Linked DNA regions of Homo sapiens. The protein of the gene in region 2 interacts with the protein of the main gene of each other region in a pairwise test. Each region holds a gene or a part of one and is shown on either strand. Other genes may lie near its edges.

Region 1 (7,032 bases), on a different chromosome or scaffold from region 2:
TGGAGGCTCTCTGTAAACAGGAGGGAGAGCTGGACCGGAGGAGCGTGATCTTCTCCTCCAGCGCTTGTGACCAAGTGAGCACCTCGGTGCATTCTTATTCTGGGGTGAGCAGTTTGGACAAAGACCTCTCTGAGCCGGTGCCAAAGGGTCTGTGGGTGGGAGCCGGCCAGTCCCTCCCCAGCTCGCAGGCCTACTCCCACGGTGGGCTGATGGCCGACCACTTGCCAGGAAGGATGCGGCCCAACACCAGCTGCCCGGTACCAATCAAAGTCTGCCCTCGCTCACCCCCCTTGGAGACCAGGACCAGGACTTCCAGCTCCTGCTCTTCCTATTCCTACGCGGAGGACGGGAGCGGGGGCTCACCCTGCAGCCTCCCTCTCTGTGAGTTCTCCTCCTCGCCCTGTTCCCAGGGAGCCAGATTCCTTGCCACAGAACATCAGGAACCAGGCCTGATGGGAGATGGAATGTACAACCAAGTGCGGCCCCAAATTAAATGTGAGCAGTCTTATGGAACCAACTCCAGTGACGAATCCGGATCGTTCTCGGAAGCAGACAGTGAGTCGTGTCCTGTGCAGGACAGGGGCCAGGAGGTAGGGAACCCACATAAATTCAAGCATGTGACCCACTCTCTAGGCCCTTTATCTGGACTACTCCCTGCCCCCCACCACTCCCACATTGTTCTTACGTGCTAAGATTAAAGATGACAGTAGAGAGACTGCCTTCCCCATCCACAGAGGCAGGATGCTGAAGGTGATTCCACATTAACCACTTCTGTCCTAGAAAAGCACTTGATATTTGATCTGGATCTCAATACTCGACAAGCAGAGGCAAGCTGCTGAGTAAAAATATACTGAAGTCTAATGCATGAAGTACACTGAGGCACTCCAGACCCCCCTCTTTCTCCTCCCTCTCTCCCCCTCCTACACCTGCTTTGAAAGGATGCCATGTTCATCACCCTCATCCTTGCCCTTCACCCGTTCAGCGTAAAGGAAGATATAGAATCTCTTTCCAGATTGATTGATTGAAACCAAATAGATCAACACTCTCCCAGCACCTTTTAGATTTTCCTTGTCAACAGAAGACCCCAGGGCCATCCCATGTCCATCACAGTGAAGGTGATGGAAGCCTCACCGTTTATCCCGGTCCTGGGGTCATCACAGAAGCACCCTAGTCAGCCACACATAATGTATAATGGATCATTTCCCAAGCTCCCTCAAATGCTAGGAAGACATTTTGAGAAGTAGTGGGGTAGAGTAGCAGTTTCATCCACCCTGAAAGCAATGTACTTGCTAGGAAAAATGTCCAGAGGCTCCATGTGTGTCTTACCATTGCTGGAAGAGGGGAACAGGGGCAACAGCAGCCACATCGTGAGCAAGACTCACAAGACTAAGGAGAGGAAAGAAGAGGCCCCTGCAGAGGACCCACCTCCCCAATAACATGAACATTCCCTAGAAAGACCTGAGAGAGTCTGTGTCGTGACCTGGCGTTCACTGCACTGTCTTGCTGATTGACAAGGTACCAGCTTGAGACTGCTACCTGTGTCTCAGACCCCCCTCAGGAGCGGGATTGAACAAACCCAGTGACAAGTCCCTTCTCAGAGCTGTGTATCCCAAAAACACAGGAAGAAATGAAACATGGTCCTCCTGAGGCCGGCAACCTTGGTACCCATCTGTGCTCTCTGGATGTTACCAGCCTCTGTAAGGCAGAGATGTTAACCCAGCCAGAAAGCAGAAATGCCATACGGGATGAGGTGGCTTTTCACAGAGCCACGTGCAGTTTATTCAGCCTCTGCAAGATTGGCGAGAAGCACATGAGGTTTTAGTTTGGGCGTGTTTTGAAAATAGATGCCAAAGGCCCCTGTGCCAACTGCAAAAATGCCCTGTGGTCACTTTCTTTGCTTGCTAGCCTGGTTTCTGCCCCTCTCTTAACTGCCTAGCAGACATGGAGAAAGAGAAACACTGCAAGGATTTAATTTAAAATAAATTAGAAAGGAAATATGAATGGGAGCTATTCCCATGCGAATATACCACCTCCCCTTAGGTTTGGGGTGGTGGGTTGTGCCCAGTGCCCCAAGCCAGGCTCACATCTGTGTCCCTGACATTGGGAAGATTGAGCTTTCCCGAAAATAGTGAAAGGCTGTGTTTTCTCTCTCCTCACTCATTCTTTCCCTCTGACCTCTTTTGTGAGGTTTTCCTTTTGTTCTGAAACCGTGAATGAGCGTGCCTGATGTGGAAGGCAAGTCACTGCGTCCACCTCATCCGCATCATGGCTTCCTACCAAGGACTGGTGGAGGGAGAAGAGCACAAAGGCCTGCAGTCTTTGTTTTTTGTCTCTCCTTTAAGAGGAGCCTGGGGCCGGGCATGGTGGCTCAGGCCTGTAATCCTAGCATTTTGGGAGGCCGAGGTGGGTGGATCACTTGAGCTCAGGATTTCAAGACCAGCCTGGGCAACATGGTGAAACCCCATCTCTACCAAAAATATAAAAAAATAGCCAGGCGTGGTGGCTCGTGCCAGTAGTCCCAGCTACCTGTGGGACTGAGGTGGGAGGATCACTTGAGCCCAGGAGAAGGAGGTTGCAGTGAGCTGAGATGGTGGCACTGCACTCCAGCCTCGGTGACAAAGTGAGACCCTGTCTCAAAAAAAAATAAAAGGCTGGCCATTAAGCTCAAGGGAGGGTGGTGTTTTTATGACATTTGCATATGTTCAAAGAACTGTCAGTTTCAGATACATCTTCTTTTGTGTCCCCCCACCCTCGCCGCCAATATCCCAAAAGAGAGCTTAAAGTCTTGGGGCCACAGCAAGAACACATTTTTTGTGTGTATGTTGGGACCATGTCAGTTGTTTACTTTAGAACTAAAAATATTAACTCAATTAAAAGGAGGACTCATTCAACCTGTAAAATAGTCATGAACAGGACTAGCCTTCCCCCCTTGAGAAATACCGCTACTTTTAAAAATACTCTTATTTTTACCTTTAAAAAAGGAATCCATGGCTGGGCGCGGTGGCTCACACCTGTAATGCCAGCACTTTGGGAGGCCGAGGCGGGCGAATCACAAGGTCGGGAGATCGAGACCATCCTGGCTAACACGGTGAAACCCCGTCTCTACTAAAAAATACAAAAAAAAAAATTAGCTGGGCGTCGTGGTGGGCGCCTGTAGTCCCAGCTACTCAGGAGGCTGAGGCAGGAGAATGGCGTGAGCCCGGGAGGCGGAGCTTGCAGTGAGCCGAGATCGCGCCGCTGCACTCCTGCCTGGGTGACAGAGCGAGACTCTGTCTCAAAAAAAAAAAAAGAAAGAAAAATCCATCTTCTGCATTCCTGAACAGTGAAAGAAGAGACATTTACCAAAGCTCTATGCCATTTTGGAAAACATAGCCCCTCTCAGTGGTACAGTTTGGACAGGACAGTTACAGTAAAGTTAAGGTTTTTCCCAATTTGACATCTTAGTTTTCCTAGAGTAGAGGAGGTTAGGTTTCCAAGAACTGTCTCAGGGACTTGCCATGACTGCTGCTCGAGGAGTTGATAACCTGCTTTAGGGAGTTACTTTGACCCTGGTTGAAGTATTATCCCCAGTAATAGTGCTCAAGGCAGATCCTTCTCCACAAGTCAAAACTTGTTTTCCTGAACTGATCCAGAAGAAGCCAGCATCTATTGGGCTAATTCTGCCCTGCCCTGCTTTCATATGGGATCCAGGTGCCTTCTCTTTCAAGTGAACCCCACGGAGACACCAGAGTCAGAAATCAAGACAGGAGTTTCCACCCCTTGCCAGACGCCAGTGTAATACTTCGCGTGTGTTTTCCCAATCTGTCTTCCTCCACCCCGTAGGGAGCCAAAACGTTAGACCAAAAGTGAAGTGTTAACATACCTTGTATTCTGTAAGATGTTGTAGTTATACCGTGTTAAGCAGCCCTTCCATCTCACAGTCGTTGGCTTCTCCCATCCTTTTTAACTGTTCCCTGGCTTCGAGAAAGATCAAATTAGCGCAGTATTATCCTTTATCAATAATCAGCTTTTTAAAATGACATTCTTTTTTAAATTCTAGAACACAGCATACCCAGCCCCAAACATACCAAATTTAACAGGCTTTCTCTTTGCCTACAACAATATACAAATATATATTCACCTCTCTATGGGTTTGGGTTTTATTTTAATGGCATTATGTTGTAGAGTTAGCAGCTTCCTTTTTTCACGTAGCTGTCTACCATGCACGTGGCTGTAGGTCGATCACACAGGGCCAAGACATGTTTCTCCAATATCTCTCGTTCTCGTAAATCGTAGTTCATTCAGCTGTCACTTATCACCAGACATTTCAGTTGTTTTCAGTTTTTCCCTCTGATAAACATTGCTGCAATAAACATTTTGTGACCCTACTGTTAGTAGTGGTGCATTTATTTTTGTGGGTTAGTTTCAAAGATGGGCTAAAGGTTGTGCCCATTTATTAAATACTACCTAATGACCTACCCAAAATGTTGTAGCAATTCACATATTCATCAGCAACTTAGAGTGTCCAATTTCCCCTATTCTTGCCCATACTAGTTGTCACCAGTCTTTTTAATTTTTGCCAATTTGATGGGCAAAAAAATGGTGACTACTAATGAGGCTGACATCTTGTTTTATGTGTATTGAACATTTATATTTCCTTTCCTGTGAATTGCTGGTTTACCTCTTTGCCTATTTTTCTTTTGTATTGTTTAACTTTAAATCAACATGTAGGAATCTTAATCCCTAATATTAGGAATATTAACCCTTTCTCATAAATGTTGCTTAGATATTCCCTTAGTCTGCTTCTTTATTTATTGTACCTTTTCCCATATAAAAAAATATTAGTTTTATGTAGTCAAGGTATAAGTCTTTTTCTTTATGACTTCTGGATTTGCTATATTCCTTAAGAAGTCAGGTTGGGAATTTTTCTCTTCCAGTAAAAAAAAATGAACAAGTCACATAAGTGAAAATCACAAAGCAGTATGCACAAGGTCCTAGTTTGTTTCCTAAATATACACACCATATAAATAAAATCAGCATAGAGAATAAGAAAAAACTGGGAGCACCGTTGGAGAGGAGTGTAGGGAAAGTTTCATTTCTATGTATGTCTGTAATGTTTGAATTTTATGTATGTCTATCTTGCACAGGTTTATTTTTTAAATTAAGACATAATTCCCATATCATAAAATCCACCCTACTAAGATGAACAATTCAGTGGTTGTTGATATATCCACAATGTTGTACAACCATCACCACTATGTAATTCTAAAACATTTTCACCACCCTAAAAGGAAATGCTGTACCTATTAGCAGTTACTCCTCATTGCCCACTCCCCTCAGCCCCAGGCAACCAGTAATCTACCTTCTATCTCTGTAGATGTACTTGTTTGGGGCATTTGTATAAATAGAATCTTGCAAGATGTGGCCTTCTGTGTCTAGCTCCTTTCACTTTAGCATAATGCTTTGAAGGTTTACCCTTGCCATTGATGTACTCACCAGGTATATTGTCATGTATTAGTACTTTGTTGCTTTTAATTCCTGAGTAATATTCCATAATGTTGATCCATTTTGTTGACTAATACCACATTTTGTTGTTCATTGGTTGAGGGCCATGTGGGTTGTTTCCACTTTGGGGCTATTATAAATAATGCTGCTGTGAGCATTTGAGTACAAGTTGTTTTTAAGACATGTTTTCAGTTATTTCCATAATATTCCTAGGAGTGGAACTGCTAAATCATATAACTTTGTATTTAACCTTTTGAGGAGCTACTAGACTGTTTCCAAAGTGGCTATACCATTTCAAATTCCCACCAGCAGTGTATCAAGGATCCAGTTTCTCTGCATCCTCGCCAACACTTGTTATTGCCCATCTTTTTTGTTAGTGCCCTCTAGTGGGTGTGAGTAGTTATGGTTTATCTCATTATGGTTTATAGGTTTGTTTTTAGATGTTGGAAATTATAGAAAATTACAGTCATTTTCCAAAGTAGTAAGCCTCTTAGTAAGACAGCTTTGTAACTGGACCATTTCTACTTAATTGTAGATTTTAGTAAAGAAGCACCACAGAGAGTTTCTTTGCACAGTCAAAAGTATGGATTTTTGGACTTGCTTTATTAACATGTTTTACACTGAGAGAGATAAAAGTGTATGAGAGTAAGAGAGTGTGTTGGGGGCAGGCAGGGGGCGGGAGAGAGAGAGAGAGAAGGGAAGAGAGAGATAAAGTCCAGAGAAAACATGGAAATGGTACAGAATAGAAGAGCCATCTGACTCTAACTCTTCCCACCCCAATGCTGACTTTGAGACACATGTTGTATGTAAAATTTTCACAATCATTTTTGTGGTTTGGTGAATCAGGCAAGTTTTTAGAAGTGTCTGTAATTGGTCTGCTTAATAAAAAGAAACCTTGCTGGGCAGCATAGAAATCAGCCATATTTCTAATTAAAACAGTGTTTTTATGTTGTCTAGAACATTGTAAGTGTCTGGAATTCCAAAGCACATGTCTGTAAGACGAAACCATGTGACAGAGATAGATAGGGCTAATAAACAGAAATAATAATACCTTGTATCTATCAGGCAGTTGAAACTTTCCCAGGCACTTTCTCCACCTGTCATCCAGTTGTATTCTTCATAGCAACCCTGTAAGCTAAGTAGGGCAGGCGTTATCGCCCTGTGACTCCTAGATCCTCCAAGAACTTTGGGACAGACAGAATGAAGACTTGCCTGAGATCACACAACTAATTAATTGACGTATCACAACTGAATCCCAGGTGTCCCATATTTGTGCTAGAAACTGGACCATGAGAAGAGGGCGTGGAAGGACAATTGCGCGAGAAACATTTCTTCACCTGGGAGGGGAGATTTTGTCATTGCCATCTGCCCAGCACTGAGCTGGCTGTCCTGGTTCCAGCAGCACTGGAATCATCTCCAATGGGCATATTGCTTCCTCCCTCGACAGCTCCCTGGGATCTGAGGGTCTCCTCAGAGTACAGGCGTTAAAGACTTCGGAGAGCTGACCACACCATCAGTGTCTCAGGGTATCATGCTAATGTGACCCTA
Region 2 (7,032 bases):
GCTCACTGCAGCCTCGACCCTCCTAAGACTCAGGTGATCCTCTTGCCTCAGTGCCCCCAGTAGCTGGGACTCCAGCGACTGCCACCATGCCCGGCTAATTTTTGTATTTTTAGTAGAGATGGGGTTTCACCATGTTGCCTAGGCTGGTCTCTCCTGGGCTCAAGTGATCTGCCCACCTCAGCCTCCCAAAGTGCTGGGATTACAGGTGTGAGCCACCAAGCCCAGCCAAGCCAAGCAGATTATATATGAAAGCTATAGAGGAAAGACACCTTACATTAAAGTGTGAAGTCAAATGGTTCTCAGGCATGTAGATAAGATCTCATGGGATTAATTTCAACTTAAGAAAGTTGAGACTTTGGAATAAAAAAACCAGCTGAGATGGGTCAATTCCTTCTTGCTTTCTCTTACTCAACAACTCTTTGAATATCTACTGTGTGCCAAGCCATGTGCTAGTATGGATATAGCCATGAGTAAGAATTCACAAGTTTACAAACTGGTGGAAACGGTTCATGTTGAACAAGTAATAACAAATACATGTGGGTTACAAATGCTACAAGGACGCAGATGAAGGAATGTCAACCACATCTAGTGGAGTACATCAGAAAAGACTTTGATAAGGCAAAAGGCCAGAAAGAGGAAAAGGGAAGCCTCTCCAAGGAGGAAAGATGAGTGTGGTTGGACAAAGGAATGACAGGAGGGCTGCTTGGCTAGAATGATGGGAAGGAGGGGCATGCCAATAGAGAAGTCTGAAAGCAAATGCTACCATGTTAGATCTCACACAATGGGTAGTCACTAAAAGATTTGAAGCAGAACAGGAGGATCAACTGGAGCCTCGTTGTAGGAAGATTCATTTGGTGGCAGCAGAGAACGAGCTAGATAGTTCTCAAGCCTTTCCCGGGTGTGAAATGAAATGAAAAAGGACAATAAAACAAATAATAATAAGATACAATTTAAAAAGAAGTGGACTATAAATGCCAAAAAGAGGAAAAAAAATAAGAAAAAGAGATTAAAAAGAGAAAAAAGAGAATGAACTAGATAGGAAAAGATTAAAAGCAAAAAAAGATCAGCTTTAATTTATTGTAACCTTTGGCCACTGGGTAAGAAGTAAAGGTCTGAATTAAGTGGCAGCAGGAAAAAAGAAAAGGAAATAAGGGAAGAAATGTTCTGAGAGTGAAAAATAATTGAACTTGGCAATTCAAATAACTAAAACTCAAATACATGGAGAAAATGGTACAGCAACAGAAATCACAGAAATAGAAACAAGCTTGGGAGGGGAGGTTCTTCAGCGACACTAGGTGAAAAGTGCCAGCAGGACACCAGGAGGGCAGGCAGCGGCCCTGGGAAAGCAGCACTCACATAGGAGATGGCAGCCAGCTCCTGCCGGGTGTGGGCCGCTCCTACCAAACCCCGGCCCTTCATGGGGCAGATGCCACGGTCATAAACTGTAAACTTGGTCCCCATGAGGTTGGATCTGGAGTCAGGAGAAAAAGTCACCATGATGATCTGTATTTTTTTTCTTATACAAACACAATCTAAGAGAAGGAAAATGGAAGCCTATTTGCCTGTTTTCCAAATGTCTCAATGTTCATCATCACTTTTTCAAAAATATCTCATTAAAGCAAGGAAGGAACTGAGATTTTCTTTTAACTTTTTATTTACTTACTAATTCGAGACAGGGTCTCGCTCTGTCGCCCAGGCTGGAGTGCAGTGGCAGGGATCATAGCTCACTGCAGCCTCAAACTCCCAGGCTCAAGTCATCCTCCCACCTTAGCCTCCTGGGTAGCTGGGGCTACAGGTGAGAACTGCCACGCCTGGCTAATTTTAAAGTTTTTTGAAGAGATAATGTCTCAGTGTGTTGCCCAGGCTGGTCTCAAACTCCTGGCCTCAAGTGATCCTCCACCTCAGCCTCCCCAAATGCTGGGATTATAGGCCTGAGCCACCACACCAGCCTTATTTTTTTATTTTTTTGAGACAGACTCTCATTCTGTTACCCAGGCTGGGGTGCAGTGGCACTATCTTGGCTCACGGCAACCTCTGCCTCCTGGATTCAAGCAATTCTCGTGCTTCAGCCTCCCGGGTAGCTGGAATTACAGGCTGTTCTACCACACCTGGCTGATTTTTGTATTTTTAGTAGAGAGGGAGTTCTGCCATGTTGGCCAGGCTGGACTCCAACTCCTGACTTCAAGTGATCCGCCCGCCTTGGCCTCTCAAAGTGCTGGGATTACAGGTGTGAGCCACTGCGCCCAGCTTTTTTTTTTTTCCTTTTTCTTTTTTTTTAAGATTACAACATCAATACATGCTAGTTGTAACCAAGATAAGGACTGTTCTGCAACTATAGGAATAAGACTATCAGAAAGAATAGGACAGTGATCTAAGGTTGCTTTCACCTAAGCTTGCCGACATAACTTTCTCCTTCACGAGATAAATCAACTGGATCAATGGAGATAAGGTAGTTGGCTGTTTTGCTCTTTTTCCGCTTTCTAGCTGCAAGAAGAAATATCTGGGAAAAGAAAAAGTGTCAGTCAAAAATGAAGTCCAGAGAACCTGCCCCACCTCTGGTCATGGTTGTCCTACATATTCATTCAGCCAGTGCTTAGCAAGTCCTCAGCATATGTCAAGCTGTTAATCTTTGGGCCTTTATCCCTTTCTCTAACTCTCTTATCAGAATTCACTATCAGGCAGGGTGTGGTGGCTCACGCCTGTAATCCCAGCACTTTGGGAGGCCGAGGTGGGCAGATCACAAGGTCAGGAGATCGAGACCATCCTGGCTAACACCGTAAACCCTGTCTCTACTAAAAATACAAAAAATTAGCTGGGCGTGGTTGCAGACGCCTGCAGTCCCAGCTACTCAGGAGGCTGAGGCAGGAGAATGGCATGAACCCAGGAGGCGGAGCTTGCAGTGAGCCGAGATCATGCCATTGCACTCCAGCCTGGGTGACAGAATGAGACTCTGTCTCAAAAAAAAAATAAAAAATAAAAATAAAATAATTCACTATCAGGGTTTTCTTCCTATACAGTTTTTCTAAATTCACTAGCTTGATTCTCCATATAATTAGTTACAACTTCATCCCTAAAACTTCCAGTTAAAAAAAAAATCTCCAAAGCTGGGCCAGGTGGCATGAGCCTATAATCCCAGCTGCTTGGGAGGCTGAGGTAGAGGGATCACTGGAGTCCAGGAGTTCAAGGCCAGCCTGGGCAACCTTGCAAAATCCAATAAATAAATAACAATCAATGTTCATCCAATGCCATGATTAAGAGTCTTTCCAACCTTAGGAGAGACAGGATCCTGAAAACCTTCCCATTCTTTACTGTGATGGCTTTTTTTTTTTTTTTTTTTTGAGATAGGGTCTCACTCTGTCACCCAGGCTAGAGTGCAGTGGTGCAATCACAGCTCACTGCAACCTCTGCCTCCCAGGTTCAAGTGATTTTCCTGCCTCAGCCTCCCGAGTAGCTGGAACTACAGGTGCATGCCACCACTCCTGGCTAATTTTTTAATTTTTTGCTAGAGGCAGGGTCTCCCCATGTTAGCCAAGCTGGTCTCGAGCTCATGTCCTCAAGGGATCCACCTGCCTCAGCCTCCCGAAGTGCTGGGATCATACGTGTGAGCCACCGCACCTGGCCTGTGATAGCTTTCTTCATGCCATGGGGACACAGACAGAGGAATGTCAACCACATCTGGTGAAGCACATCAGGAAAGACTCTGATTAGGCAAAGGGCAAGAAGGGACAAAAGGGAAGCCTCTCCAGGGAGGAAATACTCTTTTTTCTATACTGCTGTTGTGTTAAACCACTGTGACCTCAATGGCATGAATACCATCCTATATAGGCATCCTTCCTAAACTCTCCTAGACTAGGACCATAATAGGGAAGCAGGAGAGTGGCAGTGGCTAAGCAGGAAGACTTTAGAATTATGCAAAATAGGTTTGAATTTGGCTCTGCCACCACTTAGTGCAACGTGGGGTAGGTAAGTCACTCCCTAAGCCCCAGTTACCTCATCTTTAAAGCAGAGGTAAGAAATCCTACCTAACAAGGTGGCTGCAAGGATTACAGGTGATAATATATATAGATATATATGCATATGCTTGGTCTGTCGTAAACACTCAATAAATGGTGGTTAGAAGAATTAACACCTAGTATCATTATCTTATTTCTAGGCTCTTAAAATCATCTGTTAAGACCTGGTATTAATACAAAATTAATAAAATAAAGTTCATCGCTGGCTCAAACTTATAAAATAAATTAGAACTTCTAGGGTGAGAAACAAGACATTTAACTTGTAGGTCCTTCTGTATTTCTAATTCCTCCTATTCCCTAAAACTCACTCTCCTTCCACAATGTCATGTTCTTCCGTAATAAAAAGAAAAACCAAAAGAACAAACAGTAACATTCAAAAACTCAATCATGGGAGACAGGTGAAAATAATTACATTAACAACTACCCGTCCATTTTCCCACTTCGTGGATAAAGCTCTTATTTGTGGGAGGGTAGAGCTTGCTGCCTATTAGACCATGAGCTCTTTGCAGAAAATGAGAACACAGCATCTGGGGACTGAAAGATACAATCTACTTCCAGCTGGCTTGGTCTAATACCAGAGTTAGTTCCCTAAGGCCCATCAACAATCTATTCCCACAACATTCTTCTCTCTCTCAAGAGTTTTCTTAGAAATCAATTCTCATACCTTCTGATTTTCTTCTTTTTCCAAGTACATATAGTAGGTGGGGAAGAGACCCCGATCCATTCCCCTTTTATCCCGGATTATCCGACATCTTACTGTGACACCTTGAGGGGCAGGACTATACACAAAGTCCTCCAGGTCGTCTATGTCTCCCAGGAGGTTATCAGCTGGTTGGGCGGCAGTAGCAGAACCGGAAGTGCCTGTATCCTGAAAGGACAGCCATACATGAGCAACAACAGGCCGAGACTCAAAATCTGATTCTCTTTGAAAAACACTTAGTGGACAAAGCAACTTAGTAATTTACCCGTGTCTTCAGTCTTCTGACAGAATGAGGAAAACTGAAAAGTTAAATTAAGTATATGAATATTGAGAGTAATGAAGAGTAAGTATCAAAATGGGACAAAGCCTCACAATAGCTGACCTGAGACAGAAAAAATTAGATCATAAACTAAATTTGAGCTTACACTTCTGAAGGAACCCTCACTCAGTAATGGTATTTAAATACTGAAGATATGTTTGAGGGCTGGGCACGGTGGCTCATGCCTGTAATCCCAGCACTTTGGGAGGCTGAGGCGGGCGGATCACGAGGTCAGGAGATCGAGACCATCCTGGCAAACATGGTGAAACCCTGTCTCTACTAAAAATACAAAAAATTAGCCGGGTGTCATGGCGGGCGCCTGTAGTCCCAGCTACTCGGGAGATTGAGGCAGGAGAATGGCGTGAACCCGGGAGGCGGAGTTTGCAGTGAGCTGAGATCATGCCACTGCACTCCAGCCTGGGTGACAGAGCGAGACTCCACCTCAAAAAATACATAATAATAATAAATAAATAAATACTGAAGATATGTTTGAGAAAGAGTCAAATTAGCTCTAATGGAAGAAGTTTCAGAACTACATACGGTTGAATTCTGGCTTGATGCAGAATTGGGTCTTTCTAAACATGCTGACTGGGATATTCCATCAGTCTCCTCATCGAAGTTCACACTTTCAGAGATATCTAGCAGAAAAGGAAGAACTGTTAGCACTGCCAACACTGTTTAAAAAAGGTCTTTGAAACAAAGATAGTTTTAATTTTCTTGCTTAAAACATTCTTAACTATTCTGACCGTAAACACAACTATTTTGTCCAAATACATAAAACAGGCAAATTCATAGAGACAGAAAGTAGAATAGAGGTTACTAGGGGCTGGGGGCAGGGGAGAATGAGGAATTATCTTGAATGGGTGTGAAGTCTCTGGGATGATGAAAAAGTTCTGGAGATGGATGGTAGTGATGGTTGCACAACATTGTTAATACACTTAATGTCACTGAATCTCACACTTAAAATTGATTAAAGTTGTAAATTTTAGGCAGGGCAGGCTGGGCGCGGTGGCTCATGCCTGTAATCCCAGCACTTTGGGAGGCTGAGGTGGGCAGATCACGAAGTCAGGAGATTGAGACCATCCTGGCTAACATGGTGAAACCCCATCTCTACTAAAATACAAAAAATTAGCCGGGTGTGGTGGCACGCACCTGTAGTCCCAGCTACTCAGGAGGCTGAGGCAGGAGAATCGCTTGAACCTGGGAGGCGGAGCTTGCAGCGAGCCGAGACTGTGCCACTGTACTATAGCCTGGGAGACAGAGACTCTGTCTCAAAAAAACAAAACAAAAAAAATTTAGGCAGGGCACAGTGGCTCGTGCTTGAACTCCTAGCACTTTGGGAGGCTGAGGCAGAAGGACTGCTTGAGGCCACCAGTTTGAGACCTGTCTCCATAAAAAGTTTTTTTAAAAAAATTAGCTGGTCACGATGGTACCTGTGTGTCTGTAGTCCTAGCTAGCTGAGGTGGTTGGATCACTTAAGCCCAGGATTTTGAGGCTAAAGTGAGCTATGCTTGTGCCACTGCACCCCAGCCTGGGTGACAGAATTACACCCGAACTCTTTTTTTTTTTGAGACGGAGTCTCGCTCTGTCGCCCAGGCTGGAGCGCAGTGGCGCGATCTCGACTCACTGCAAGCTCCGCCTCCCGGGTTCACGCCACTCTCCTGCCTCAGCCTCCCAAGTAGCTGGGACTACAGGCGCGCGCCACCATGCCCGGCTAATTTTTGTATTTTTAGTAGAGACGGGGTTTCACCGTGTCAGCCAGGATGGTCTCTATCTCCTGACCTCGTGATCCGCCCGTCTCGGCCCACCCGAACTCTTAAAAAAAAAAAAAGTGTACTTTTTGTTATTTGGAAGGGAAGGGAAGGCTTCAGTAAAAACAGGAAAACTTGCTAGACAAATTCTAAAAAGAGCTGCAGCACTGGTAAATTATTATGATTTTTTGAGATGGAGTCTCACTCTGTTGCCCAGGCTGGAGTGCAGTGGCACCATCTCAGCTCACT

Evidence for each region. Proteins that work in one complex are often made in the same cells at the same time.
Region 1: the proteins of TULP3 (region 2) and BACH2 interact in binary tests that used the Homo sapiens proteins (3 or more experiments, as listed by UniProt).

The regions. Positions count from the first base shown.
Region 1 is NC_000006.12:89,943,828-89,950,859, reverse strand, and holds part of BACH2 (transcription regulator protein BACH2), read left to right. Parts: coding exon 1-590; intron 591-7,032. UniProt on the Homo sapiens protein: Transcriptional regulator that acts as a repressor or activator. Binds to Maf recognition elements (MARE). Plays an important role in coordinating transcription activation and repression by MAFK.
Region 2 is NC_000012.12:2,928,886-2,935,917, reverse strand, and holds part of TULP3 (tubby-related protein 3), read right to left. Parts: intron 6,954-7,032; exon of another isoform or gene 6,893-6,953; intron 5,671-6,892; coding exon 5,573-5,670; intron 4,882-5,572; coding exon 4,678-4,881; intron 2,501-4,677; coding exon 2,388-2,500; intron 1,472-2,387; coding exon 1,357-1,471; intron 1-1,356. UniProt on the Homo sapiens protein: Negative regulator of the Shh signaling transduction pathway: recruited to primary cilia via association with the IFT complex A (IFT-A) and is required for recruitment of G protein-coupled receptor GPR161 to cilia, a promoter of PKA-dependent basal repression machinery in Shh signaling.